Linked DNA regions of Homo sapiens: regions 1 and 3 are each linked to region 2. Evidence: fine-mapped expression QTL. A gene starts in region 2. Each other region holds a variant in brackets. All regions are shown on one strand. Distances are from middle to middle. Region 1 overlaps SYK (spleen associated tyrosine kinase). Region 2 holds the start of SYK (spleen associated tyrosine kinase). Region 3 overlaps SYK (spleen associated tyrosine kinase).

What was found. PIP is the estimated chance that this variant, and not a neighbour inherited with it, causes the effect. A credible set is the group of variants that fine-mapping cannot tell apart.
Region 1: its variant is the best candidate, but not a certain one, in a credible set for the expression of SYK in whole blood (INTERVAL, PIP 0.82).
Region 3: its variant is the best candidate, but not a certain one, in a credible set for the expression of SYK in monocytes (Quach 2016, PIP 0.86).

What each region holds. Positions count from the first base shown.
Region 1 is chr9:90,892,303-90,903,656 of GRCh38, forward strand. It overlaps SYK (spleen associated tyrosine kinase), which reads left to right. Exons shown (of 14, transcript NM_003177.7): 14 at 3,226-6,247. The coding sequence ends at 3,298. Among named protein-coding and RNA genes, the nearest start is that of SYK, 96 kb to the left of the region's middle. The variant T/C (reference allele first, on the strand shown) is at 6,768.
Region 2 is chr9:90,796,140-90,804,739 of GRCh38, forward strand. It overlaps SYK (spleen associated tyrosine kinase), which reads left to right and starts at 5,680. Exons shown (of 14, transcript NM_003177.7): 1 at 5,680-5,754. RefSeq lists silencers at 5,429-5,638, 5,659-5,818.
Region 3 is chr9:90,855,453-90,866,806 of GRCh38, forward strand. SYK (spleen associated tyrosine kinase) reads left to right here. Exons shown (of 14, transcript NM_003177.7): 4 at 6,754-6,892; 5 at 9,137-9,215; 6 at 9,596-9,645. Among named protein-coding and RNA genes, the nearest start is that of SYK, 59 kb to the left of the region's middle. The variant A/T (reference allele first, on the strand shown) is at 5,607.

The DNA.
Region 1 (11,354 bases), 98 kb after region 2:
ACTCAGGCCCATTGCAGCTCCAATGCCCAGTCTCTGATGATAAGGGGCATTTTCTCATCCTGCTACAGGAAGGGTCTCCTTCCCAGAGGAATCTTTATGGCTTGCTGCAGGCATGAAGAGACAGGTCAGTTAGTCCTATCCGAAACTACAATGTATCCAATATTTTCAACTCAAAATAATCAATATCCCAATCTGGCATATTTTGGGATGGCCCATGCTTCACTCCTTCCCCCTCTCACTTTCCAAAGAGGAAACACAACATCAGAGTCCTGCCCTGTGCAGGTCACTCAAGGAGGCAGCGTGAAAGCCAGGAAGGAAACACTGGCCCTAAGAAAAGCAGGAATCAGTCAGGAAGCCTTCCACTGTAGTGTTTTCCAGAGCCAAGTCATGCTTGGGGTGATTAAAGACACCAGTGGGGAAAGCCCTTGCAAATGGAGAGAAGTTGGTGCTCTTGATCCTGAAAAACGGTTTCCTAATAGTCCCAGCCCTCCAGTGGGGGCCTCTGCCGAATGGAGAAATTTCCTGGGCTCTCCAGGTTCTCTGAGAGTCAGGGAGGCTCTAGATGCGGCTCAAATTCCTGTTTAAAGATCAACAAGCCCAAGATAAAACATGAATTCCCAGGACCTTGGTGAGATGTCCCCTGGCTCCCTGCACAACCTCAGCTCCAAGGCTTTCCTCTGAGCGGCACATCCTCTGAGAGCCCTGGGTCATTCACAGGGTCGGTGGCCACTGCCGGAGCTCCTGCTATGCAGGCTGCCACCCCAGGTGCAAGCCTCACAGAAGCCTCAGACCCTGTCCCTATCAGACCTTATAGTTGGGGCTGGGGCAGACAGGCAATAAACAATAAGCTAAAAATAAGTGTGTCCTATGATGTGTCTTAGGAAAGGGATGACTCCAGTGGGAATTCTAAGCAAGGAGGGCACAGGGGCCTGGAGGATATCACGTGTATATATGGGGTTTTTTAAGCCCTCTCGTGTCGAAGTAGTTTCTCACAGTTGCCTGCAGCACAGAAGCACATTGGAGCTTCTAGAATGTGGTGGATTCAATGAAGGGACTACAGGTGGTCCTAGTATATTCTCTGTTTTGTTTTGTTTTGCTTTGTTTTTTCATTTTTTCCTCAGTAGTAAACAGCCACTCTCTCCAAGGTGATATATAGAGACAGACAGAGAGAGCGGGAGGGAGGTAGATGAAGGGAGAGAAGGAGGGAGGGAGGGAGAGAAATAGTCTCATTAGCACAAACCCAGGTATGGTTGAAGGGGGTTTATTATGAGTAACAAAAGATGCTGCTTTCAGCCCAACAATCAGGAAATTCCAAGGGTTTTAGGAGCTCTGTGCCAGGAACCCAGGATAAAGACCATATATCTCTTTATATAAAATCACACACTGGAAACTTTAAAAGAGAACAGAAAATTATGGGGAGGGAAGCCTCACACTTCCAGCAGGGGCTCCAGATAGGCCGCCTTTAGGGATTGCAGCTGAGACCTGCAGGCTAAGAAGCAAGGTTGAGTGCAGGGATGAGGGGAGAGGAGGAGGGTCACTGGGTACAAGGAGCAGAGCAGAATCTGCACTCTGGCCCGAAAGCAGAGTGGCAGGCCAGGGCAGGCCAGGAAGCTGGGCACGCAAGGGCACTGCATCACCCTCCTGCTGCTGAAGCACAGCTGTGTCCCAGCTTCCTGGAGGCAGCATCTCCCATGGATGTACAGGAGAGATTTCCTAGGAGACCTGACCAGGTGTTTTTCCTGAGGACGAGTCTGTATTCCTGTTTCCCTGCATTTGTTTGCTCCTTGGCTGCTGGGCAGATGAACCCCCAGAGCAAGATCCAAAGGTGCTCTTTGTACCATTTGGATCCCCACAGTTGGAGCAGAGCCCCCTGTTTTGCAAAGATGCTGAAGTGTGTTCTCTTTGACTGTAGAAGTTTAGGAGCAAGACAGAGGCTGTCCCTCTGGGTGGACACATGCTCCTGTACCAGAGGCTTGGCCACCATATCCCCTCTCGGAACACACTTGGTGGCCAGAGACAAAGCCCCTCTCAGTGACACCCTGGGAGGCCCGTGTCCCCAGACATGACCACAGATGGCTGACCACACTGATCAATTCGAGCAGTTTTATCATTTTGCTCACTATTGAAAGCTATAAGAGAAACCATGTATTTTGATGCCATTTGACAAAGCTACCCATTTTGATTTGTAGAAGCCACTCTGCTCTTATAATGATGAGTGAGTCTTGGTCCTGATGCGCGTTCTATGGCTGTTCTCTTGTGTCGACATTGAATCATATGAAATTGCCATTGATATAGGTCAAAATGGCTGAATGTGGACGGTTTCCTACAATTTAACCTCACATTCTGTTTCACTTTTTCACTTATTGTATTTCAACTTCACCCACTTGCAATATATCCAGAAATCTTGCAAAATAAGAAAAATAACTTCTAAGTGAGGATCGATTATCAGGGTTTTAGTACTTACTTCCAACTGATCTGTACAGGATGTCTGTGTAAGACAAAACAGAAGTGTCTGTAAGTGTTTGTTTAGAGACTGCGAACTGTTAATGCTTTTGCCCATAGTTTACTGACATTAGTGCCTCCCTGGCCAGCAGTGGCAGTAAGGACTGGCTATATTAAGGTGGATCATAGACAAGCCCTGGGTCTTTGCTCCTGCCATGACATGTTTTGAGCTTTCCTAAGAACCCATATCAACAGCCCATTTTCAGAAAATCCAGAGCCATCGATTAGAGCGTGGAAAGGGAGAATTAAAGTTATGTTCGTATTTCTTCTCTTAACAAGATTATGAGTCAGATGTTGACTATATCTGCAGAACATTTGCCAAGTATTTTCAGACACCTGTTTTGCTAAAATCACAGAGTGACAGCCTCTTCGTGTTGCCTGTGGCACAGAAGCATATTGTGTGCCGCATATCTGAACCTGGGGCTAAAACACTCCCAGTTCTAATGCAAAAAGTCTCCTACTTTAGGGTGGACATGAATCACCGGGAGGTCTTGTTAAAGTGCAGATATGGGTTATTTAGGTCTACAGTAGGCCGACACTATTTTTGACAGCCTTGTGGTCACCCTGGGGTGGGGGGCACAGGGACCACGCTGTGAGCTGCAGGCCCTAGAGTTAGCCACCAGGGAGCAGCACCACTGGTACTCAGCCTGCAGAGGCCCTGCTTGTGATCAGCAATTTTTCACAAGCACATTGACAAACAAGAATGCATCTCTTCCATTCCAGTGTGGAAAACAGGCCCGGATTCGCAGCAGTGGAACTGCGGCTGCGCAATTACTACTATGACGTGGTGAACTAACCGCTCCCGCACCTGTCGGTGGCTGCCTTTGATCACAGGAGCAATCACAGGAAAATGTATCCAGAGGAATTGATTGTCAGCCACCTCCCTCTGCCAGTCGGGAGAGCCAGGCTTGGATGGAACATGCCCACAACTTGTCACCCAAAGCCTGTCCCAGGACTCACCCTCCACAAAGCAAAGGCAGTCCCGGGAGAAAAGACGGATGGCAGGATCCAAGGGGCTAGCTGGATTTGTTTGTTTTCTTGTCTGTGTGATTTTCATACAGGTTATTTTTACGATCTGTTTCCAAATCCCTTTCATGTCTTTCCACTTCTCTGGGTCCCGGGGTGCATTTGTTACTCATCGGGCCCAGGGACATTGCAGAGTGGCCTAGAGCACTCTCACCCCAAGCGGCCTTTTCCAAATGCCCAAGGATGCCTTAGCATGTGACTCCTGAAGGGAAGGCAAAGGCAGAGGAATTTGGCTGCTTCTACGGCCATGAGACTGATCCCTGGCCACTGAAAAGCTTTCCTGACAATAAAAATGTTTTGAGGCTTTAAAAAGAAAATCAAGTTTGACCAGTGCAGTTTCTAAGCATGTAGCCAGTTAAGGAAAGAAAGAAAGAAAAAAAAAAAAGGCCTGGATACTGCTTTTGCTGTCTCTGTTATGAGATGGAAGACTTACATGTTTGTGATAAAAGGGGACCATGAGAATGAATTGGCTTGGCTTACTTTCCCCCTGAAATCCTCTCTCCTGCAGACTGTCTTGAAGACCTGGTGACTGGTAAATAAAGCCCTGCATGGAGGCTGCACAGCAGGGGCAAGAGGCCCATCCCCCAGCATCTCACTGAGGACAGCTTCAGGCTGCCTTCCTCTGAACGTGGTCCACACCTTCCTCTCCTCCACAGAGAGGGTGCCGCCAGAATCCCCTGTCGCTTTCTGTGTCTGCAATGGGGGGCAGCACAGGGATCAAAGCCATCTAAAGAGTTTCCAAAGAAAGTATTAATTCAGAACAAGCCAAAGACCCTGAGCCTCACCACAAACAGGCCTTTTGGAGTGTGAATTTGAGTTGAAGATACAAGATCGGAGAATGATTTTCTGGTCTTAACTAATCCTCATCTTCATGTTTGATCTTTAAGAAGTCATCACCCATTGATTTCAGTTTTGCTGTACCTCTTGAAAGTTAAAGAGACATCTCAGCACTTTAGGAGGCCGAGGCGGGTGGATCACTTGAGGTAAGGAGTTTGAGACTAGCCTGGCCAATATGGTAAAACCCCATCTCTACTAAAAATACAAAAATTAGCCGGGCATGGTGGCATGTGTCTGTAGTCCCAGCTACTCGGGAGGCTGAGGCAGGAGAATCGCTTGAACCCAGGAAACGGAGGTCGCAGTGAGCCAAGATCATGCCACTGCACTCCAGCTTGGGCATCACAGCGAGACTCTGTCAAAACAAACAAACAAAAAAACAACTTAAAGAGGTAATTTAGCCATCATTCTTATGCCAGCAGATATAAATAAACTTGGACCCATCTGGTCTTCAGCTAAACCTGAGACATTTTAAAGTGCATGGACAGCCATGGACAGCAGGCCCTCCTCTAACAGGGGATGCAAGGCATGGAGAAAGACAATCAGTACCCAAGCTCAGCCACAGAAGACAGGAGTCACTCATATAACTTGTGTTTAGAAGTTTTTGGTAGCCACGCACACTTTCTGAAATCACACTATCTGGTGGTTTAATCATATTTTTAAAGACAGAATCCCTGAGTGCTGAGCAGATTCTCAAAACACATTTAGAATCCCTGAAATTAGAAAGATCAATGACAAAATATCTGTCAGCCAGGCCACAAACAGGTGTAAAATTATGAAAGGAGTGGTTGGATGTGCCAAGTTTGGTAAAGTGGTGACTGCATCTGAGAAAGAGGCTGTGAGGCTGAACTCTTGGTGGCTTCCTTCTGTAACTTCCAGAGGGAGTCTTCAACACAGGCCCCGTGCTCGTAGGAATACGGTAGCACCTATGTAGGAAGTGCGTGGAGTTTTCTGTCTTCTTTCTGTGTGATTTTTGGCCTTTTTATCAGCACTTCTCCCCTCCCAGGAGCCTGGGGATGCCAAACATCCAGAATGTGATGGGACAAGATGGGGGCAGGGGCCTCACCTCCCTGCAGAGGTCCGGCCAGGTCTCCTTGTCCCTGGACAATCTCCTGAGCCTCTCTGCTTGGTGGAGCAGGCACCTGTGTGCAGAATTCCCACTGTGGCCAGCACGAGGAAGTCTTTTCTAGTGAAAATGTGTCTTGTGGTCAGGAATAATTATCCTTTCCCCTGTAGCCACCAAGGAGGGCAAATAGAGAAAGGTAACCTAATTGAAGGATTGGTCATGTGAAAAGGGCTACATTTGGGAAGCTGGGAAAGGCCTCCAGGCTTCTAGAGCAGCTAGCTTGGGCTGGATTCTCATACCCAGGCTGCCCCTTGGATTGTTCTACCCAAGCTTTTCCCTGGGGTCTGGGCTCACTCCATAAGGTAAGGTGCCTTTTACCTTATGGTCCTTCTTTAGCAGGTAACAAAGGAGCATCAGGGGCAGGCTGCCCTGGTGGCATCACACTGGCTAGTGAGGCCGTGAATATCTTGTCCCCCAGCAGGGCCGACAGTTTCTATCACAGAAAACAGTGTGTTCAGTGGTGAAAATCGTTGCATGCATGTTTTCATCTGAGCGTGTCCTTCTCCCATACTCCCTATCAGCCAGCCCTGCCTGTAGCTGCTGTATGGTGATTGCACTTGGACATCAGTCCAATGACTGCAAGTCGGCCTGGATTTTCACTTGCAGAGGCTACAGCTGCATTGTCAGGTCTCCCAGCCCTGCAGAGAGCTCCCTCCACTGGTTAGCAGTGTGTTGTGTTTTCCATTCATTTCAGAAGAGCTACATTGTGTCACTGGACATTTTTAAAAACTGTGATTTTTAATAAAAATTTAAAATTTGCTTTGTGATGATTTTCATGGAAGTTATTAGGATGTGGTAAGTCACACTGTCAAATAGTGTCAAGCAGCATTGTCAAAGGGGTAGCTAAATGTTTTCTAAAACATTAAGTCCCTGCCATGTCCCAAAAAAGTGAATGTGTTGGCCGGGTGCAGTGGCTCATGCCTGTAATCCCAGCAGTTTGGGAGCCCAAGGCAGGAGGATCTCTTGAGCCCAGAGTTTGAGACCAGCCTGGACAACATAGTAAGACTTTAGCTCTGCAGAAATCAAAACATTAGCCGGGTGTGGTGGTATGCACCTGTAGTCCCAGCTACTTGGGAGGCTGGGGCAGGAAGATTGCTTGAGCCTGGGAGGTCGAGGCTGAAATGAGCTGTGATGGCACCACTGCACTCCCAGCTGGGTGACAGAGCAAGATCCTATCTCAAAAAAAAAAGTGGATGTGCACAGGTCAAAGTTGACTGTGAGATTCCACCACACAGAACGGCGGGGAGGCCCATCAGGGAGGGCCCTGTCCTGCCCTGCC[T/C]CTATCTTTTATTCATGAGCAGAGCATCTACCCAGCCAGGGCCTGACAGCCCATGGCCTGCCTAATAAAAGACAGACTGAGGAGACCCAGAAATCCCCCATCAGGCCAAAGCAGGGCTGTGGGTTTTGAGCTATCCCTTTCTCTATGAAGACAGCCTAAAAGGAACTGCGGTAGGCAAAGAAAGGATTCCAGAGCCCCAATTTCTGCCTGTTCTAAGGAGGTTACACACATGCGCAGACATGCACACATATACATCCACATGCACACATGCATTCACACATGCACAGAAGGCATGCACACGTGTACATATGCACACATGCATATATGTCAGTGCATACATGTATATGCACACATGTACATACACATGTGCATGGGCACAAATGCATGCATTTACATGAACACATGCATCCACACACATAAGCACATGCACAAATGTACACATGCATTCACACATGTGCACACATGTGCATGCATGTACATACACCTGTACCCACATGCACACATATACATACACATATGCAGAGACGGGCACACATACATACACATGCACACAAATACACAGAACATGCATGCACCACACAGTACACATATACACATACCAAACACATACCACATACACCTTCACACACCACACACATACATACACTGCGCATACACATACTATGCCATACACACACACCACGCAAGCACACACACACAAAACGCACACACCACCGCACATACTGAACCTTACTCCAAATAACCACTTAAAAATCCATGTGAGGCAGTGGTCCTGCAGTGGACACACCCTCGTGTCTGTATCCATCTTCATTACCACCCTCTCTGGTGTCAAGCACTAAGGGACTCTCCTCACAATCTTCCATCCTAGCCTCCCCTGGGTCCCCTCTGCTCTTGCCAAGCCAAGTTAGGTTTGGAGGAAACAATTAAGTTGGCTGGGCCAAGGCTCCCTGGGTCAGCTGGGAGATGGGAAGGACACAGACTGCCCAGTAGCCCAGTGGCCTGCGGGGGGCTGCTCCAAATACAGTGGGGTGGTGAAGAGCCCTGAAGTCAGAGAAGAACACAACACACAAGAGACCACTGGGCTCCAGCACTGACCTTAGGCATGTCCTATAAATTGAACCCCTGAGCACCACAATTTCAGCTGAGGGTGCCTATGCTGACACATGTAAGTGCCAGCACAGTGGCCTTATTCTAAAAATGTCAGCAGATGCCATGGTCTGTGCTGTTCATGCCAGTGGCCATCTGCTGGGAGGAATGCTGCAGGCAGCAGACGGCGCAGGCCCTAGGACAGCTCTGGAAATAAGCACTGGCCTTTGGCTTCAACCCCAGGGAGGGAAAAACTCTTGTGATAATGTATCACTGCACTGCAGTGAGATGGCTTTACCACTAGCCTGAGCTGCAGCAGAGAAGCGGTTTAAGACCCCGGGGCTTGTCCTTCGGAGATGAGGAGGGGACTTTAGAACTGATAGATAAATATATTCTCATTTTAGGGAGGAAGGGAGCACTTTGAAAAAGGCAGATTTTGGTTTTTAAATTATGTTTTAGTTTGTGATAAACAATGCCGTGTCTCTTTTCCTCTCTTGGTTACTCGCTGGTGGTCTCAGGGTGGAAATTCATCCCTGCTTCTGGGCAAGCAACCCTACCGAATTATTACCTCCTCTCTGGTGTTAGGCTGCAACAGGGACCAACACCTCTGTGCTGTGGGACCTCCCACCCCCTCCTGCTCCATGCTCTGTCTCCTGTGGCCTGACATTTCCAAAGAGCATCCCCAAAAAAGGCATTTCACAAAGTGTCTTCCGGGATATGAGTCTGGAAGGTGGAGACACGCTCTACAGCACGCAGTTTCCCTGATTAACTAACTTAGAAAACATGGCCAAGTACATTCACAGTGCACATTAATCTACTAATAGCTCCAAAGAGCACTGCAACCAAGATCTTTTCATGGAGCTTTTCTAGCTCAACATTCTCCTGACTTCTTTTGCCACTACCACTAGGTGCTCAATACCTATTAGCATGATAGAGTGCTGTTCCCCCCACACTCACTGGGAAATGTGCTTAAGGAGAATTAGGGAGGCATCTCTAAAGGGCAATGGTCATTTGGTCCAACCCTGAAATCACACCAAGGAAGCAGGTATCTGTGTTCTTATTAACTGGAAAGCCAGCCCTGTCCTGTCAGTTCTCAAAGGTTAATTTACACATGATATGTTCTTTCACTCTCTCTCTCTCAGATACATACACACACACACACTCTCTCTCTCTCTCTCTCTCTCTCTCTCTCTCTCTCTCTCTGTCTCTCTCTCTCTCCAGGGCATATAGATTCAATCTTTCCTCCAAAGAAAAAGAAGAAACGATGACAGCACTTTGGTATAGAAAGGTGTGGGCAGCAAGACACCCAGGTGCCGAGGCAAGAGACTGAAGGCACAAGCTGTTCCAGTATAATAAAGAAAATAATAAGAATAAGAATAGTTATACTAGAAATAGAATATAGATATGATTATATATGAATATTATTAATCATTAGTTTGTAGAATTACTCTTTGTTCTGTTATTATAATAATCCCTATTCTAGAATTATAACCTAGGAATAACCAGGCCATACGGAGTTAGGAGCTGAAGGGACACGATGAGAAGTGACCAGAAGGTAAGAGTGTGAGCCCTCTGTCACGCCCAGATAAGCGCAACTAGAGGACTCCTTGGTCTAGTGGTAACGCCAGTGCCTGGGAAGGCACCTGTTACTTAAGCGGGAAAGGGAATCTCCTTTTCCCTGGAGGAATTAGAGAACACTCTGCTCCACCACTTCTTGTGGGAGTCCTGACATTAGCCAGGCCCACACACAGCCATTCAGAAGCTTGAACGTCTCCCAGTGATGCTGTGCTTCAGCAGTCACGCTCCTGGTCCACTTTCATGTTCCGCTCTGTACCTCTGGCTCCTCCTTCTAGATAACAGTAGCAGAATTAGTGAAAGTATTAAAGTCTTTGATCTTTCTGTTAAGTGCTTAGAAGAAATGATGACGTATGATGTATGCTGTCCTCTCTCTCTCTGCCTCGGCTGCCATAAAGGGAAAGGCCCCCTGTATGGTGGACACGTGACTCGTGTGACCTTATCAATCACTGGAGATGACTCACACTTCTTGCCCTGCCCCCTTGCCATATATACAATAAATAGCAGCATGGCCAAGCATTCAGGGCTACTACCAGTCTCCGCATCTTGGTGGTAGTTGTCCCCCGGGCCCAGCTGTTTTTTCTTCTATCTCTTTGTCTTGTGTCTTTATTTCTACAATCTCTTGTCTCTGCACATGAAGAGAAAACCCACAAGCCCTGTAGGGCTGGACACTACATCTGGCGCCCAACGAGGATTTCTCTTTCATTATGTGAAGGCGCGCTTCGAGCATGGAACACAGTGGAGAGCATCAATGACAGATTCCTGAGAACTGCAGTCAATACGCTTGGTGGTAGGCTTGGGCACTCAGAGTATCCCCGGACACCATGGGACAGGCCAGTACTAAGTACTCGGCTTATTTAAACTTTATAAAAACTCTCCTTAAAGAAGGAGGTGTAAAAGTCTCTACTGATAAGTTAATTGCAGTGTTTGAGGTCATAGATCTCCTCTGCCCTTGGTTTCCTACTGACGGAACTTTAGAACTCAAAGATTGGGATGAGATTGGCCAACAATTCAAAATTGCTCATAAAGGGGGAAATATTCCTCCCACCATTTGGTCAATCTGGGCTTTGGTTCACTCTGTTCTAGAGTCCTTGCAGACTCAGGAGAACAACATGGAGACTGACCCCTGTTTCCTGTCCTCTGAGGAGGTTGAGGAAGTCCTCAGTTCTCTTTCCCCTGAGGAAACTGCACAGATTGAGGCCGTCATTTTACAGATGAACCTCCATTCTGACATTCCTTTGACCCTGCCACCTACACCAGAGCCTACCGCGCCCCCATTATCACTTTATGATGAACTTTTACATGATTTAAATAATCTCATTTCCCCAAACCAGAGAAATCCAACCGAAATACATTCTCAACAGCTGTTGTAACTGGACCCTCCTGTCTTTCCTCAGACCTGCTGTAGGGCCCCCGACCTTCCATCTGCGCAGCCCGAAAATGGCTCTAAACTACCTTTCTATGGAGCCCGGTAATGAGGCTCTCAATTCTGTCCCTGTTCAGCCCTGCTGTAGGGCCCTCAAACTTCCACCTGTTCAGCCCGGTAATGAGGCTCTCAACTCTGTCCCTGTTCAGCCCTGCTGCAGGGCCCTCAACTTTCCATCTATTCGGCCTGGCAATGAGGCCCTCAAACCTGTCCCTCTGCAGCCTGATTATCCATCTCTCACTTTTGTTTCTCCTTCAGCAAATCAGGCTCCCTTGAAGCCTCAGGGTCCCTTGAAGCCTGTCCCGCAGTTACCACTGCAGCCTGGACCTCAGGCCCCTGAAGGACCTGCCCAGCAGGTAATCTCACCTCAACCTGGCTTACAGGTTCTCAATTCTTCCTCCGTTCAAAATCCTAACTTCGTTTCTCCTTCTGGTCTGGTCACTACTGCCGCTCATAAGCAACAAGTTACATACATCCCTCAAGATGATACTCCTCTTATG
Region 2 (8,600 bases):
AGAAAAAAGGGAAGCGGGAAGAAACAAAAGTGCTAAAGTTACAAGTGGTAACCAAACAAGAAAAGGAGAACCGCTTAACAAAATGCACTTTGAAAAGCGCTGGCTCATATAAAAACCAGAAGTTTGAGAGTATCACAATGAGGCCACACTCCAACCTCCCAGAAACCATATATTGTGCGTCTACAAAATCCTGAACAATTCTCACTCAGATCTTGAGAGAAGAAGGGGCCATTGTTTATCCTTAGTTTTTCTCATTTTTGACTGTGGAGTAGTGAAAATGGCTGCAGTGGAGATTAGTGCAAAAGGAAATAGCAGCAATGTGGCATGATTTTGTCAGAGTGTGAGGACTCCAACGACCCACATTAATTGGGGGAATGAGCTGAAACTCACAGATGCCCCCAACCTCGCTGGACAGAGTAAGCTCAGCCTTCTCCCTCCCTCAATGAAGTGCGAAGCCTGCATGTTCCTCACAGTCTCACATTGGAAGGAGGGGCCCAGTTTGTGCAACACAACTCCAGCTAAGCCCACCCCCACCATTCCCACGCTCAAAGGTTATAGAAAATCAAGCTCAAAAGGAATATTAAGCCGTCATATGTAATCCAGAAAAGGGGTAAGAAAAGGCTCTGACATGAGGATTTAGGAGCTGCCACACACAAAGGGGCAGAGCAAAGTGAAAGTCTGAAGAAAGCTGCCAAGTATGGACAAGATGAAATCAATGAACTAGCAGCTATGCAAACCTTAAAAGAAAATAACATGCACAAATTAAAAATAAAATCCAGTCTGAAAGAATTTTTAAGTGCACAGGCTACAAAATTTGATAAGAGCCTGCATTCAATTTTTTAAAAAACTCAAGAACCGATTGAATAACCAAGAGAAAATAACTAAAAAGAGTGAGATAGAGAGAACCAGAGACAAAGAAATAATTTGAGGACCAATAAACCTACCTACAGGTAAATTAGAAATAACAAGAAATAAAGCAGACCCAGCTAAACATTTAGTTCCCGAAAAAAAAGAAAGGGAGAGAGAGAAAATCACTGTGAACCAGGAAGAAAAAACAAAGTAGATTACTACAATCAGAGAAAAGATAATAGACTTAGATGATAAAAAGTTAATTAATATCCTTGAAGAAAAGCACTTAACAAATAAAAAGGTATTTAAAATCACACAAGAAAAAATTCTTTGAATGAAGATCTAAATCTGCGCATTACAATGGTGGATACACAGCATTATATATTTGTTAAACACCATACAATATACAACACCAAGAGGGAACCTCAATGCAAACTTTGGGCTTTGGGTGATTATGATGTGCATTAAAGAGTGCATTGTGTTTAAGAAATAAAAGATGGCCGGGTGTGGTGACTCCTGCCATCACTTTGGGAGGCCAAGGCAGGATGATCACCTGAGGTCAGGAGTTCGAGACCAGCCTGGCCAACATGGTGAAACTCTGTCTCTACTAAAAATACAAAAAATTAGCTGGGCTTGGTGGCGGGCGCCTGTAATCCCAGCTGCTCAGGAGGCTGAGGCAGGAGAATTGCTTGAACCTGGGAGGCAGAGGTTGCAGTGAGCCAAGATCACGCCATTGCACACCAGCCTGGGCAACAAGAGTGAAACTCCATCTCAAAAAAAGAAAAAGAAATAAAAGATGCTGGTTGATCTGTATCAGTATATATCCTTGTCAAGTTTCTTAATATCTCAGTTAAAGAAAGTTTCCTCCAGCAGCCTGGAAAGAAGAGCAAGTCACCTAAAAGAGGACAAAGGACTGGCTGTTCTCACATTTCTCCAAAACAACATTCAATGCCAAAGGGGCAAGGGAGGAAAATCAACCGAGTCTAGGCCAAAGGGAAGTAGGATGGAGACACAATGTGCCCACCTTGATGTCACTGCAATACAACAGCAACAGAATAACATCCTGAAAGTGGAGAGCATTGATAGATGCAGTATGTGGGATCACATCTTCACAGAGTCCATCCAGCTCATCAACAAAGAAAGTAGGAATGAGATATGGTGGTAGAAAGGTCTGGAGGTGCATAAGGTATCCTTTTAAATGGAGAACTAAGAAGAGACCACTGAGGGTTTATGGTTACAGAAATCAAAAATTTTAAACTTAACTATGTAAAACTCATATAACTAGGGAAACGTGAGAGGTGAGCTGAAGTGAAGTGGAGTGAGAGAGGTAATTGGTTCATGTATCATAGCAGAGTTACTGATACTGTCTGAAATTAAAGCTCATGGTTTAGAAGAAATGACGAAAACTGCTTATTATTGTCACTTTTCTTTTCCTTTAATCAAAGTGGGGTCATTTCAGAAATGATACATTTGTGGCAAAGAATCATTTCTATAAAATCAGCAATTCTTTAGATCCCATTTCAGAATTTTTTATTCTGTTAAATTTAAGTAGAATTAAATATCATATTTAACATGGATAAAATGTATAATAAATGTATTATATTTAAAATGATGCCCATTTTTATATCTATTGCCATGTGTACATATAGAAAGAGATAATTTTGTAAGGGTCACCTAACGGTAATGATGATTATGTCTGAAATTTGGGATGTTTCTATTTCCTTTGTGCTTTTATTCTTTTAAGGGATTGCCTATTAGGAATACTTGCCACTGTTACCAAAAAAACTATTTTTTTAAATTAAACACTATTTTTTAGAGCAGTTTTAGGTTCACAGTAAAAATGAGAGGCAGGTACCGAGGTTTCCCATATACCCACTGACCTCACACATGCACAGCCTTTCCCATTATCAACAGCCCCATCAGACTGGTACATTTGTTACAATTGATGAACCTACTTTGACACATCATAATCACCCAAAGCCTGAAGTTTACACTGATGTTCCCTCTTGGTGTTGTATATTGTATGGTGTTTAACAAATGTATAGTGCTGTGTATCCACCATTGTAATATCATACAGCATACTTTCACAGCCCTAAAAAATCTCTGTTCTCCTTCTATTCATCCTGCCCTCCCCACCAGCCCATGGCAGCCACTGATCTTTTTACTATCCAGATAGTTTGGCTCTTTCCAGAATATCACCTGTTGAAATTATACAGTATGTAGCCTTTTCAGAGGGCTTCTTTCACTTGGTAATATGCATTTAGATTTCATCCATTTCTTTTCATAACTTGCTAGTGCATTTCATTTTAGTGTGGAACAATATTCCATTACACTGATGTACAAGAGTTTATATATCCATTCACTTACTGAATGACATCTTGTTTGTGTCCAAGTTTTGGCAATAAACTTAGTAAATAAAGCCAGCGTAAACATTTGTGTGCAGATTTTTGTGTGAACATAAGGTTTGAACTCCTTTGGGTAAATACCAAGAAGCACAATTACTGGGTACTACTTTAGGTAAATACCAACTACTTTGGGTAAATACCAAGAAGGACAATCCTCTTATAATTACTCATGTTGTAAGAGGATGTTTAGTTTCATAAGAAACTGCCAAACTGTCTTCCACAGTGGCTGTACCATCTTGCATTCACAACAGCAATGAATGAGTATTTCTATTGCTTCACATCCTCACTAGTGTTCACTGCGGTCAGTGTTCCGAATTTGGGCCATACTGATATCTTACTGTCTTCATTTGCATTTCCCTGATGATACATAATGTGAACCATCTTTTAGGCTAGGCATGGTGGCTCACGCCTGTAATCCCAGCATTTTGGGAGGCCAAGGCAGGCAGATCACGAGGTCAGGAGATCGAGACCATCCTGGCGAACACGGTGAAACCCCGTCTCTACTAAAAATACAAAAAATTAGCCGGGCATGGTGGCGGGCGCCTATAGTCCCAGCTACTCGGGAGGCTGAGGCAGGAGAATGGCGTGAGCCCAGGAGGCAGAGCTTGCGGTGAGCTGAGATGATCGGGCCACTGTACTCCAGCCTGGGCAACAGAGTGAGGCTCCGTCTCAAAAAAAAAAAAAATTACTACATGATACTAAGTAATGCGGAAGGTGACTCAAAGGGGGAAAGGAACACAGCAGTGTAAAGGAAGGAGGTTGTAGATGGATCTAGAATTTCCCCCTCATTTCCATCAGGTGAAAGCCTGAGAAAACTGCAATCTTTGTGCAGGCTGGGTTTGCTTTGTACACACTGGTCCCCTAGTGTTCATCTCCAATAATGCTGACAACTCTGAAAACCATCTGTAGACATTCTGCAGGCTCCATCTCAGGAACAATGGCTATTTTTTCGGGTAGTTGAAGCAAAATTAAGTCCAATGATAAGCAAATATAACCATTATCAAAATCTTCCATTTATGTTTGTTAAAGCAACCTAAGTATGATCTGAGAAGGACTCTGTATTCTATATTTGAGTCCTTGTGGATGAACTGTAACCTAGCTTAATAGGCAGACAAGATTGAAAACCTAATTTAGGAGTATGTGCCTTTAACAATAGCTGAGTCTTGGCCAATCCCAGTGGCCATACTTCAACCATTCATACACTGCTGAGTGTTCAAACTGTGTTCAAAGAAGGCAAAAGCCAACCTGTAACCAATCCAGTTGTTTCTCTGCCTTACCTCCAATTTCTGTATGTCACTTCCCTTTTTTTGTCTATAAATATGTTCTGACCATGAGGCATCCCTGGAGTCTCTGAATCCGCTGTGATTCTGGAAGCTGCCCCATTCGCAAATCATTCATTACTCAATTAAACTGCTTTAAATTTAATTCTGCTGAAGTTTTCTTTTAACAGGTTTAGAAAAAATAATGGCAAAAATGAATGAAAATCCAATAACCCTGGAAGCAGAAAAGGCTGGGGGCTCCAATAAGTGTAAATAGTCCCATCCCTATATTTTCTCCATGGCAATTACAATCCAGCACATTATATATATATTTTTTTGCTTCTCGCATTTTGGCTTAGGGTAAAGCTTTTTAAAACAGGCACTGCCAACCAGTGTTATCAAGAAGGTCTGGATGCCGTTTTGTGGGAACATTTTAAAGAGGAATGTCCAAAAGGAAAAGGGGGATGGGTTGGGAGAAGGGTATCAGGCGGGTATCTCAAAACCATTCTTAGGGCTATAGGTTTAATTTATTTGGTTGTGGACGTCAGAGCCGTCATGGTAAGAAGGAAGCAAAGCCTTTTGTAATAATTAAAGCCTTCAGAAGCAGCGTGCCCCATTGCCCACTAGTGCGCCGTGAAGTCTGGTGTTCACCTACAGGGTCCCTCTCAGCACTGCCCAGGCCTCCCGAGTGCTCCAGCACAGTAGCTTGGAGCTTGTTGGTTTGGTGACCAAGATACACTCCAGGGAATATGCCATGCAGTGGAGTCTCTTCCCCGGCACTGCATAGCAAAAGGAAAGGGCCGCTGGGTGTCTGTGGGTCCTGGGCAGTCACAGAAGCCACCGCGCTGGCGGGGAGGAGGGGGACCGATGCGGTCCATGTCCCGGGCAGCCCCACCTTCTCTGCCTGCGAAGGGCCCTTGTCCGGCGGGAGGAGAGAGGCGCGCCCCACCCGGGCTCCTCTACACCTGCCGCCGCCTGGGCCGATTCCGCGGGCCTCGCCCGGCGCTTCAGCCGATTCCCGCCCAGCTCCGGGCTCATGGGCGCGGTCAGCAGGGCGGGCCAGGGCGGCGGGGCGCGACACTGGGAGGAAGTGCGGGCCGCCTGCCCGGGCGCGTTAAGGAAGTTGCCCAAAATGAGGAAGAGCCGCGGGCCCGGCGGCTGAGGCCACCCCGGCGGCGGCTGGAGAGCGAGGAGGAGCGGGTGGCCCCGCGCTGCGCCCGCCCTCGCCTCACCTGGCGCAGGTAGGTGTGGCCGCGTCCCCTACCCGGCCGGGACTTTCTGGTAAGGAGAGGAGGTTACGGGGAACGACGCGCTGCTTTCATGCCCTTTCTTGTTCTACCTTCATCGGCCGAGGTAAAAGTGCTGAAACCATGTGAATAAAATACAGGTGGGTTCCGCCAGCTTCGCTCCTGAACCTACCCGCGCTCGGGATCCAGAAGCTGCGCCGGGAGAGAGGGGCTCAGGCCTGGGCGGAGGGGACGGAGGTCAGACCGTGCGGAAAGTGACCCGGGCACCCCAGGGCGCCCAGGCCCCCAGGGAGCGCGGAAAGTGCGGTCGCGGCCCGGCCCTCGGGAGACGCGGGATTGGGATCAGGCACAGCGCGAGGAAGTCGATCTTGGAGCTAGAACATTTTCCTTTGGCCATTTACACGAATCCACTGGAAAATGCCGCAGTGTTTATCAAAGTTACTCAAAGTAGAAATGTCCAGACGTCTTATGAGCTTAGACAAATCTTTTACTACAAAAAGAAACAGCAGTTGCATTCAAACAACAACCCTTCTGAACCACTACTAAAATTTAGCATAATTACTCTTGTGGATACATTTTCATTGTCAAGTAATTTACTTAGCCAATGAACTTGGAGAGCAAGAAAGTTTTATGTAGTAAAATGTAAATTTGAGTTAAGAGTTAAGGGTGTTTCTTTTTGTCTGTTTGTCTGTTTTTGGCAATGTGGCTCCAAAACCTTAAGCCCACCTAAAAACTATATAAATGCAATCCATTCTTTTGTTGGAATGTTCAAGGACTAGAAAGACAATTGGAGAAGTGAGAGTTTGAATCTTTTTTTACGTTGGAAACAGTGTTGCAAAATATTTTTTGAGTTTTGCCTGACTTAGCAAAGATTCAGTCGAACTCAAGTAGAGTTCAAAGCATTGCAGCGTGTAGTAAAAAAAAAAAAGAGTTGAAGATGTTGTGCCATATCTGATTCTTGGTATTAAAAATAAAAAAAGGAACCATTTAATCCCTAAGAGTTCCTGGAAGAAATGGAATTGATTCTACCATCTGACTTCTTTGTCTTAGTAGGGACAAATTCATTGCCTTCACACAGGCAGCATTTTAATTAAATGCAACTAAATACATTGATGTCCTCCTTCTCCCCAGTGAAAGTCCGAGCAGTGCATAGATAGAATTATATTTTCTCAAAAAGGCTTAAATACATGTAAATTATTAAGTGTTTTAAGTGAGAAATCTTTGTCAGTTGAAATTATTTTATCAAATCATTTTTGTTCTGAACGGCACTTTTGTTTTAACGTATTTAGAAAACTCTTGCATTAAAACAGAAATTGATTTGTATTATCCCCTGTATTTGAAGTGCACTTTAAAGTGTATTTGAATGAGAGATTATAATCAAATTACTTGATTTGTGTCTTATCCTCTTACTCTTCTACCTTGGATTTGAAAAGGTTGGATTTGAACACTAGGAAAAAAGAGATTTTTCTACTGAGGGATTGTGGGAAGATTTTTTTTTAAGCCTCTGTATTTGAAGTGAAATATAAAATAGGATTTTATAATAGTCTTAATAACTAGAAAGTTTTAAGCTAGGATAAAAATGGGGTGTATACTTTAGGTCTTTATCTTTCCTGAGAGATGAAATTGGTAGAAACGTTATTTTATTGCTAGATTTCACTTTAGAAATGAATCACCCTGATCTTTGTTAGGCCCCTATTTAATATTCTAAATGCAGGTCTAATCTCTCTGCTTTTTTTTAATGGAAGACTTCTTAGTAGAACTTCACTTATTTAGCACATTGTTTGCCCATGGTTATAATCCAATATGCTTGTGCCAAGACGTATTTTGGAATTCAAGCTTTTTCAGAATTTGGAATTAAAATTTAGAATCTAAATTTCAGAACTGAGAAAGACATTGCTCAGAATTTAGAAAGGTAAACATACATGTTGACCCTGCTGGTTACATGCCATTCCAATATAGTCTGGAGAGAATCCTGTAATTCCATGCATTAATATTTCTGTACTTTTACATTTAAGAACATGAATATTCTCACTAAGTGGAATAAATAAAGACTATAAAGAGCTGTGTGTCTGTTTAGAGCAGGTGTTATCACTACGAGAGCTTCTCTAAGACTTACCAAAAAAAAAAAAAGTGTTGTTTTTCAGAGCTTTTTAGAGCTGCAGCTGAGGGACTGAGTCTGTATTAGACTCCACTGAACTACGGTTTGCTTTTAAAAGGAAAGTGCATTTATGTTGTTCAATACTTCACACTTTCCAGTAATTAGAAGGGCAGTTCCTCTCTCTTTAGGGAGTCTTAAATAGCAAGATTTTACTGAATTTTCAATCATACCGATCAAAATAGAGGTACTTCAAGTAAGAGTGGATGTCTCATCTTTGTAATATAATTTCAAACAGCATAGTTTCTGACAGTCTACCATTTTAGAGAAACAGAGCAGAAGTTACTTACAGGAGGGGTTACTGTCACCCTTTACAGCTGCAGTCTGTCCATGGAAGAAATATTATTTCCTGTTAACTTTGCAACCAGCTGGGTTTGTGTCAGTTATCTAAGCCTAAGTGATGGCTAATTTTTACTTTCTCAACTTTCCCTGTATAGATTTTTTTCCAGCTACCCCCTGACTTTTCTACTCTTGCTTTGCTGGTTTTAACATTTTCCACTACTTCTGGATTGGTTTAGCTATAACTGGGTGGAGAAAACAACAACAACAACAGGAATTTAGGCCTTTGGGGAAGAATTTGTTTTGTTTTAGAAGTCTACACATTGAGCATTACTTTTTCTTCTAAAGCAACTAAAATCAGAAGGCAGAGTCCTAATGAGAGATTATGATCAAATTGCCTCATTTG
Region 3 (11,354 bases), 61 kb after region 2:
TGTATGGCTCTGATTTGCACACCCCTGATTCTGGTGGACACAACCCTTTTTCTTAGAAAGCCAGAATCACTGTATCTTCTAGTCCTTAGCTGCATAAAAAAATGGGGTGCAAAACTTCTCTGGACTGTCTATTCTTATTGTTCATTGGTTTATCCTGCAGGGCCACCCATGGAGCCCGTAACTTAAGATGCACAAATGAGCTATTGAGTGAATATGTGTGTGTGTGTGTGTGTGTGGGTGTGTGTGAGAGAGAGAGAGAGAGAGAGACAGACAGAGAAAAAGAAAGAACCATCTGGAGGGCTGGCAAAAGCACAGATGTCTGCGTTCCATCCCCTGAGTTTTTAATTCACAGGTCTGTGTAAGGACTCTTCCATTTGCATTCCTGCCAAGTTCTCAAATGATGCTGATGCTGCTGGTCTGGGGATATGGTGTGAGCCTGTTTGAGATACCTGTTACCTACCTGGGCTGGATTAACAACTATGATCATTTGAGATTTTCATAGTTCATTGGAGGGTCTGTAACTGCATTTGCAGTTGCAATTCCTGCAAAATGCCCAAATACTGTATTATTGGACTGGTTCCGATAAAGTTATCTTTGAAAATGCCTCTATTTCTAGAAACTTAAGTTAGATAGTAAAGAAATTCAGGCCATGAGTCAGACAGGCCCTGCCACTTAATAGCTCTGTGATTTGGACAACTTAATTTTGCTCTCTGAGCCTCTGTTTCCTCAGTAATAAAATGGGGAGACTGATGTTTTATCTGAGTCATTATGGAGATGACTTAAGTAATGTGTATAAAGCTAAGCCAATGGTTCTCATGTCTCTGTGGTTCCTACATCCATGAATTCTTTTCTTTCATCAGTTCTGAAAAACATCTTGCTACTTTTTTCTTCAAATATTGCTCTCTGTTGTTCTTGCCCATTTCTTCCTTCAGAGACTCCTATTAAATACAGTTTGACCTTCTCAATTCATCCTTTATATTTTTTATTTTCCCTTGCCTTTTCTGTGTCCTGTGCTATGAGTAACGTCGTTGAATTATTCTTCCAGCGCACTAATTTTTCCTTCATTTGTGTCCAATCTGCTCTTACGCTCATTCACTGATTTTTTTTAATTACATTTTTTAGAAAATTTCTAGCAGTTCTGTTTGTTTGTTTGTTTGTTTGTTTTTTCAAATATTTCTGGGGCATTTTTAGAGTATCTTATTGGTTGCTAATTTCCATGGTTCCGTTTTTTATTTTGTTAAACATTTCATAGTTTATATTCTATATCTGATTATTCTACTACCGAAACTTTTGGAGGATGTAAATCTCTCTCTCTTTCCCTCCCTACCCCTTTTCTCATAACTCATGCTTCCTTATGTTTTCAGTGATCTTTCTGAGCTTATGCCTGATTGATATTAATCTGTGGGAATCCTGAGTATTCGATGCTGGGAACACTTTCCTCCAGAGTTGAAGGGGATTTCCTCTTCACAGGTCCTTGCTTTAAGGTGGGAATCCCACATCCAGGTGCTCACTGGGCTGCTGGCCTGAGATTCTGTCCCTGTCCACAGCTGTGCTGATATTGGCATTGGCCCTTTGGCCAAACCCACTTTAATTGCTCTCATTTGCCACTCACTTTTTGCTGTTCAAGTTTCAACTCACTTTTTGTCCTATACTTCAATTTCAAAAGTGAATTTGCGGCTTAGGAAAAACCTTTTCCTTGTTCATTGAGGAATGAGACTGTGTTAGGCTGTCACGAGCCTCCTTTGCCACAACAAAAACTCTGTTCCATCAGTGCTTTCATATGCTGCCGTAATTGATCAAAGTATGCCATTTTATTTGACACATGTGGTTTTGCAGACCTAGGTCATCATAAAGAGTCATGACCTGTCTGAAGTTAAAACTTCAAAGAGAGTTGTGGGCTGATGTCAATATCACTTCATTGATGCTGATCAAAGTCTCCTTGAAGCTGAAAGACAAGATGCGTTAAATAATTCCACCTTCATGAACTAAAGCAGAGGGAGAGAATGAGAGGGCGTTTGTAATAAAATGTTTTAAACGACAGGTGTGTTAAAACAGCTTGGTGTGGCCTCAGATAGGGATTGTGTACTGATCTTGCTCTTCTTTGTGTGGAATGCACATGTGCCTCAGTAGTGCTATGGCGCAAGGCAGAAGCACTCAGAAGTTGCATTATCTATATCTTTCATGGATCAGTAAAGCTGGCATTTCTCCTGCCTCTTGCTGACATACACACTGTTCAGGACCTCATTCGCTCCCACATCCTCCTCTTCCCCTCTCCCAGCTCTCTTTGAGAAACCACTGTTGGGAGATGGCTCTGAGTGAGAACTGCCCACCCAACCCAGCACAGGCCCCCTCTGTCCATCTGCCCAGCCCACCTTAGCCACAGTGAGCATTCATCCTTTGCACATCTAATGCACACAGCCAATCCCAGGCATCTTCCTTCCCCTTGTATGAGTCTGACAACTGACCCGGTGATACTCTACTCTGCCATGGAAAAAAAATGGCAGGGGAGAATGAGAACACCTAGTGGGCTGGAATGTGCCCGGCTTTTCTGTTCCGTCTACAGCAGATACAGGCAGTGTCCCCGTAGCCCTGGGGAGGCCACCTTGAGTGCCTCACTACTTCTTACATCCTCACTTTCCCCTTGGTGCCCGGGCATCACCTCTGTATATTCTCTCTCCCCTAGGAGGGTGCAGGAGAGTAGAGGAGTCCAGCCCTTCCAGGCCATGCCCCAGCAGAGTCAACATGCCTCACCTTTGGATAGTGTTCTAGTGTCTGTGAGGCACAAGGCCTGCTCACCCCAGAGGCCAAGGCTGCCTACCCTGGGAAAGTAGACATGCCGCAGGTCAAGGACTGTCTCAAGACCAGTTAGGACAGCTTCTCAGCATCATCTCAAGCTCAAGCCCTGGAAATCTCAGGCTTTGCAATAGCAAAACACAAATCTGTTAACTTACTCCTCCCAAGACAATTACTGGGAAAAAATATTTTGTAAATATTCAAAGGCTTCTGTGAACAGCCTGAGGCCAGATGACCCTGAAGGCGGAAGGCAGCAAGCCAGACAGGAGCCAGGAGCCTTGCCTGTGTGCACGCCCTCTCTGGGTGTCTGTAGAGCCATAAGCCTGGGTGGGTGTCCTGATGCCACCACCAGGGCAAAGCTCTCAGTAAGAGGACACAGCCAAGAGGAGGAGCAAGCCTTCCAAATCAGTTTGTCTCCTATGTTTAATTAAAAATGGCCTGGTCCAGGATCTGCCTGCAGCCAACAGATACCTCACAGTTGCTGGTGGTTAATGTCGCGAGCCTTCTGGTCTTTGCCACCTACAGATGCTGGGCCTGTGGGTTTCCTTTCTCTGCTCTTGTTTCCTGCCACCTGCCACAGGGGGCTGCCCAGGCCACATGTCCATGGTCACTACCTATACCTTCCAGTTACCTGTTGCCAGGACTGGCCAGGGCTGCTTGGTGGAGCACAGGAAGAGAGGGGATCGCCTGCAGAACCTGTCCTCTTGAAGAGCCTCAAGGAAGTGAGGCCTTTGCAGAAACTGCTTGTTCCAAAGCAAAGGGCACTCTCTGTTTCCTCTGGGTTGCTCTCTATTTCCTCCTGGTACCAGCTCTCTTTTTATACTGCTTTTATTGTGAAATATAAAACAAACACATAAGAGTGCATAACTAAATAGGTACAACTTAATGAATGATTATCAAGCAAACACAACCCAGTCAAGAAATGAAATGCACCCAGCATTGCAGGAGACCACTCCGCCCTCACACACTCATACCCATCTGTACAGCTGGCCTCCTGGGAGGCACCACCTCCTGAACTCTTGTGTTCATCACGCCCTTGCTTTTTTTGTTATTTTTCATTTGTTTGTTTTTTTAGTTTTACCACCTAGGTGTACATCACTAGATAAAACAGGTGGCTTTTGTCTGTTTGGGGACTTTGTGTATATGGTAGCATGGAGTGAGTTTTATGTTTGTGAGACTCATCTGTGCTTTGTATAGCTACCATTTGCTCATTTTATTGCTTTAGAATACAGTATTGTGTGAATTCCTACAATTTACTTGCTCTGTGGTCACTTACGTTGTGTGCAGTTTTTGATAAGCACAGATGAAGCTGCTATAAGTAGCCTTGGGGTGCATAGTGCACACATTTCATACACCTAGGGGTGGAATTGCTCATTCACGAGGTCTGTGAATGAATAAGTTCAGTTTCAGGAGACTGTTCCAAATTGTTTTCCAAAGTGGGTGAGCCCATTTATGCTCCCACAAGCAACGTAGGAGGGGCCTTGCTGCTCCCCACTCTCAGTAGCACTTAGAATGATCTTTCTAACTTCCACCAGTCTGAAGAGCGTGGAATGGTACTTCCCTGGGGTCTTCATTCATGTTTGCCAGATGCCTAATGAGGTTGATGGCATCATCTCTCAGGGAAACCTGTGCTTGTCTGTCTCAGTTTTTAACAAGAAAATGTCAATCAAGACATAGGGTAAGATGGAGTACAGCAGATTGGACATGGATTCAGAAACCAGAGTTCAGATCCCATTTATTACTACTATCTTTTTTTCTGGAGAGATGGCGTCTCACTCTGTTGCCCAGGCTGGAGTGCCATGGTGCAGTCTTGGCTCACTGCAGCTTTCACCTCCTGGGCTCAAGTAATCCTCCTGCCTTGGCCTCCCAAAGTGCTAGGATTACAGATGTGTGCCACTGCACCTGGTTCAGATCCCATGTATTATCTCCATGACCTTGAGGTCACAGACGTAAAAGATTAAATTATAGGAAATACTTTGGAGTGACATATTGTCACCATTCTTTCAAGGCCAACTTTTATAGGCATATGCATCCACTCTTACTGCTGTAGTATTTGGATAGCTCTCTATACCCTCAAACTATAAGCCACTGATATGTATAGAATAAACATAAATAGTCTCACTTTATAAGATACTTTCCCTATAAAACAGACTCAGTTCTCTCTTTATATGAAAAGATTACCATGTGGTTTTTTGTTGTGTTGTGTTGTGTTGTATTTAACAGTCACCAACTGCTGGCTGTAGTCGGCCATGTGGCTGTGAAAAGGGAGCTCACACCTTGGGCGCTGGCAACTCGGTTGGTTTGGGAAGAAGAGGTTGTTCTCACAGTGGGGAGGTTTCAGCACAGCCACCTGCTGAGGCCACAGAGAACCTAGATATGTGTCCTGTACCCTGGCCAGCTGCCCTGAGCTGTGGGGTGCTGTGCATGGCCAAGCACCGCTAGAAAAGACACTTATTCTGAATTTCACTCCTCCCATGCCATCGTTCAGCTTTCAAGTCTTGGGTTAGCTTTTTGAGATAAGTCTCCATGGCAAGGGACAGGAAAGCATGGCCATGTCCAGTTCTGAAGGCCATCTCAACTCTCCCTGTGGTCGTGTATCTGACTTCTTGCAACCAGGAGGAGGCATCAGAAATTTCCCCAGTACCCAGACGTCCCAAGGCAGTTGGGCACACTTGAACTCTGCCCCAAGTACAGTGCATTTGGGCACGTGGCTTAACAATTTTGGACCTCAGCTTCCTCATTTTAGAAAATGCAGGGGCCAAAGAGGCTTCCTGGGACTTCATGACTCACCCTCAGAACCTAAGATCTCATGA[A/T]CCAAAGGGCTGCAGCTGTGGAGAGGGGAGAATGGGGCAGTGTGTGTGACTACGAAGCTAAACTGGGGGATTCGCACCCATTTCGTGCCTTTTCAGCCTCCACTGGGACCTCGAACTCCCCAAGTCCCACAGGTCTTCCAGGGGATCTCTCACCTCCCCATGAGTCATAAGCCTTACGTGGCATGCACTGCAGTGGGGGTGTTGTTCCCTGCCTGGCATCAGACTCCTGTGTTTCTGTTCACCAGGACCCAGGGCAGGGGGTTGTTCTGAGGGTCGCCCAGCATTACCATGAAGACAGAGCCTTGGCTGCTCAGCACGGCCAGCACAGCTCTGGTTTCACCTCTGTCTCTTCACCCCACAGTGGATGTCATTTTCTTCTCCTGGGGGTGTTACCCGACAATATCATCATTTGAAACTGTTTGAAGTCCAGCCCTGCCTCCCTTTCCTGCATTGGGAGCTTGGAAGTCCAGCCCTGCCTCCCTTTCCTGCAGTGGGAGAGTGGAAGTCCAGCCCTGCCTCCCTTTCCTGCAGTGGGAGAGTGGAAGTCCAGCCCTGCCTCCCTTTCCTGCAGTGGGAGCATGGGAGGGACTGAGGAAGGCCCGGGGGATGGAGGCTTCCATAACCCTCCATCTCTGGTCCAGAAGATGGCTGGTTAAAATGCCCACCAAACACCCCCACCCACACTCCAAGCTAGGTGGTAGAGCTGTCCATCTTGGATCTAACCCAAATGCAGGCCCTGGTGAAGAAAGGTGAGTCCACAGTGCTCCACAGATAATCAGGGCCCGTGGTGCCCCTGTGCTCATCACCCTGAGAAGCGTCACTGCTACTGAGCACCAGGCTCTCCTGACCACTGCCCAGAGCTCCTGGGCCCTGCTAGAGCTTAGCCATGGTCCATTCATCACCAACCTGCTAGCATTTCCTTGTTGCAAGCTTGCCCACTGGCATCATCCCTGAGTGGTAAACTGGGCCTTCCTGGGTTGGGTAAAGCCCTTGACCCTGAGGCTCCAAACTCTGCCCTCCAGCTGCCTTGCCAGGTGACAGGCCCCAGAGAGCGGCTGCTGACCATTCAGGCCAGGGTGCTTCCTCCCAGGGTCCCACCTGGAGACTGGCGGGCCTGGGGATGATGCAGTTCCATCCTCTCTTCTAGGATCCGAGCCAGAGACAACAACGGCTCCTACGCCCTGTGCCTGCTGCACGAAGGGAAGGTGCTGCACTATCGCATCGACAAAGACAAGACAGGGAAGCTCTCCATCCCCGAGGGAAAGAAGTTCGACACGCTCTGGCAGGTACCCAGCCTCCTCTCCCCACCTTGTGGGTAGAGTACAGGGCACGTGGGGCTCCTTGTCCCATGGACTCTTAGACATGAGAGGAACTGGACCACCCACTGCCCACAGTGTGGTCCCCAGGCCAGCAGTAGCTCTGGAGCTCATGAGAAACACACACCTGGACCACACCTGGGCTCCTGCCCCACCTGCCCATCAGACCCCACTTTCAGCCTCCAGGTGGCTTCTGTGTTTGAGAAGCACTGGTCCAGAGGCCGTCATGTGAGGTGAACGAAGGTTCCATGGCTTGTTCAGGGCCACTCAGCCCTCAGTGCCACAAGGTGATGTAAGTGCAGGGCTGTGTTCAGAGTTTAACAAGACACTCTCTTTGGAGATCTAGAAAATATTTCTTCCTAGGATATTCTAACTAGAGCCCAGAACAGCCTTTCAGACAAAGACACACAAAATAAAGGAATGGATGCCTGGGGAAGGAGGCCTAGGAACAGCCAAGCAGGACTTTGTTGGTGGTGTGAGAGGCTGAATTAGACAGCAAATGTCAGGTGCCCTCCTCATTGTAAATCGAGTCTCTCTCTGTGGAAACTAAGGCAATTTAGGAAGCATACTCCCTGGGCTCCAGGCTGCTGCTTATGCTGATTGCCACAGCCCTGGTCTAAAAAGTGCTTATTCCTGACCCAGCTACTAGAAAACCCTGAAACAACTCCCAATTTGGAAGTTCCTTAGGCACTAATGAGCACTAAAATAATGCTCATCACTGCTTTCCCTGAATCGCAGTGAGCACAGATTGCTTGTCTTAATTTTGCATCACAGCTACACTGGCTGATGATGAAGGAAATAACCGTAACAGTACTTCGTGCATCATCTTCGCAGAGCATCCTATAAACTGTAGTAGGTTCAGAAACAGGGAGAAAGCCAACCGACTCTGCCACCACCCCACCGCCCCAGAGCACCAGCTACCTTGAACATGTGTGGGTGAGGGGCATAATCAGGGCGTGTTCCAATGTCCTCACCCAAGCCCAGCTGGGGCCACACATGCAGTCAATGTTGAGGAAAGGACTCAACTCAAAATCCTGTCTTTTCAAAAACTGAGACTACAGAGCCTTAGCCCCTTTAAAGCACTTAAACTTACTACTTCCAAATGTGATTTGCTTTCTAGTGCTGTAATTGGAAAAAAAAAATACTCCTTTTTTGAATGCTGGATATGATCATATTAAAAAATGTTAGTCACAACATTTACATTGTCTTTTGATTTTGTGGCTCATTGCCATTTGTCATCATTAACCACAGGCTTCTTTCTTTTAACGATATTGATTCGAAAGAGTATTTAACCTTTCTACACTCAAAGCCCCAAAGCACATCAGGGAGGTGAGTAGGGAATGTGGCCTTCTGGAATGCAAAGGCACCTGGAGTCCTCTATGCCAGCTTAATGCTCCAAGGTCCCAGGCCCCATCACTTATAAACAGCCATTCATTCACCTTCTCCTGAAAGGGCATTTTATGTGTGTGGCGTTCTGTCACCATTTCAAAGGCTGAGCACTCACCATAGTGTTAAGCATCTCTAATTATTGAGAATGTCCTTCCCAAGAATCTTTACTATTTGTATTGATTCCCCTGGTAGATCATAGCATTCATCCCTAATTAAATATTCCTCATTGTATATTTTCTAGGCACTGTGTTTAGGAAACTACGTCAAAAATGCCAGCAATACGTTCCAATTTCCCATGCATGATTTCATTGATTTTTCTTGACAGCGTTCTAAGGTACTTCTGTACCCTACCCAACTCCAGGGCCCCAGTGCTATTTCACGGAGAGTTGGTGATTGCCATAATACCCTATTTCAATATTCTTTACTGTAGACCAGGGATCTGCAAACCCACAGACCAACTCTGGCTCTCAGCCTGTTTCTGTGTAGTCCCTGAAGAGAATGGTTTGTATGCTGTTAAAGGTGTTGTTTTGGATAAATAAATAAATAAACAAAGGACACAGATACGGTATGAGGCCCACAAAAGCCTAAAATACCACTTTCTGGCCCTTTACAGAAAAAATTTGCTGCCCCTAGCCCAAGAGGGGGGATCCCTAGCTGTGGGCCCACTTCCCCAGCCACCCTTGTGGAGTGGACTTAAGCACATAAAAGCATTTATGTGTCTTGGGGCCACTTCGAAAGCCCAACAGTCAGTCAGTAGCTCTCAGTCACTATTTGTCTATTTCCTGACCTTGGTATTTACCACTTTCTTACTTTTTTCTCTTTCAGCTAGTCGAGCATTATTCTTATAAAGCAGATGGTTTGTTAAGAGTTCTTACTGTCCCATGTCAAAAAATCGGCACACAGGGTGAGTTCCCAAGACACTGGAGTCTCAGTGTTTGAGGTATCAGTGACAATCAGCCTCATTTTAGACTTAGCTGATTGCAGATTTGGGTTGGATGAGGACTTCTTTTTACGGGTTGATTAATAATGATATCAGAGCACTCCGATTTTGTATATCGTGAATCAAAAAATAGCCAGTTGCTTTAACTTTAAAAAAATTGTAATTTATTTGTCTTCATTGCATGCGGGAAAAAGTAAAAGAGGGTCGAAAGAAGTACCTGCAGAAAGCGTGCTCACTTCTCAAGCAGCAGCACATCCTGATCTCATTGATTGATCTGCAGTGGGGAGGGGAAGGAAGTGGTTTCCTCAGATAGAGCAGTAATTGTCCATGCTCTCTCTAACCAGGAAATGTTAATTTTGGAGGCCGTCCACAACTTCCAGGTTCCCATCCTGCGGTAAGTGTCACTAGGAATACCACTGAATGAGAAGCTGTTGCATATTTCACAAATGAAAAGCATGTTTTAGCTAACAGGAGTAGTAGGCATTGATATTTTGATTGCGCTTCAAAACATACTCCGTGATGAGCTGGGATTGCTAGTGAGTGTTAGGCAGAATCAGCCTCCTATTAGTGATAAACTAACCACATTTTCTTTTCTTTTTTTCTTTTGCTTTTTTTTTTTGGAGATGGAGTGTCTCACTCTGTCACCCTGACTGGAGTGCACTGGTGCAATCACGGCTCACTGCAACCTCTGCCTCCCAGCTTCAAGCCATTCTCATGCCTCAGCCTCCCGAGTAGCTGGGATTACAGGTGCCTGCCATCACACCCGGCTAATTTTTGTATTTTTTAGTAGAGACGAGGTTTTGCCATTTTGGTCAGGCTGGTCTCAAATTCCTGGCCTCAAGTTATCCTCCTGCTTCGACCTCCCAAAGTGCTTGGATTACAGGCATGAGCCACCACACTCTGCCTAGCCACATTTTCTTAACTTCTTGTCTAGATGAAATTCTCTTCATTTTTGGAGAATATACACAATGCGAATGAAACCCAATATTAAATCAGAAGTAGGCCTCTTGCAATATTTGAGAAATGGGAACATATTTTTTAACTTCATCCTTGAGCCGTCTATGTTAACACACGTAATTCACAGGACCTCAGCTGTCTCCTCCCTCCAGCCTGTTAGGAAGTCAGGTACAGATTTATGCTCTAAGCAGGAATTATTTTCCTGCTCTTTTCTTGGGGCTACATATGGCCTTTTTTTTTTTTTTTTTTTTTTTTTGAGACGGAGTCTCGCTCTGTTGCCCAGGCTGGAGTGCAGTGGCGCGATCTCAGCTCACTGCAAGCTCTGCCTCCCGGGTTCACGCCATTCTCCTGCCTCAGCCTCGCGAGTAGCTGGGACTACAGGCGCCCGCCACAACACCCGGCTAATTTTTTTATATTTTTAGTAGAGATGGGGTTTCACCCCGTTAGCCAGGATGGTCTCGATCTCCTAACCTCGTGATCTGCCCGCCTCGGCCTCCCAAAGTGCTGGGATTACAGGCGTGAGCCACCGTGCCCGGCCCATATGGACTTTTTATGCCCTTTAATGCCATCTGTGAAGTGCGCCCTCTGCACCTCACTTTTTGCCTGGTAACCCTTGAAAAACAAAATCTGCAGAAAGCCAAATATACATCCTGCCTCCAGTAGGGACAATTGGCTGCCCAGTAGCTGAGCCCAGGTTGAAACAGGGGAGGCTGTCCAGGGGCAGCACTTGTTATCAAATGCAGGGAACGTGAATTTGCTAAAATACCAGTGACCTTTGGGATCAAAATGTAATGCCTTTATGGAAGTGTGACTTTATTTTGCCCTTTACAGGGCTCACAGGCCTGGCAACTCTATCTTAATATTATAGGCTCGGTGAGACAGATCCATACACCCTTCAGATGGATGAGGGCTTAGGGCTGAGAACTCTTAAAAGAATGTCAAGCCCTGTGCTTAGCCATCATCACCCAATGACTACAAGAAGTTAGATATTTTGGAATAACTTTTTAATTGACTGGTAAGATACATACGGGAAAAAAAAGGCATACGCCCTATGTGTACAACTCAATTAATTTCCACAAAATTTTCCACCGTGGAACCAGCACCCACCATGAAGAAGCAACACAACTGAGCACTCAGATCTACTTG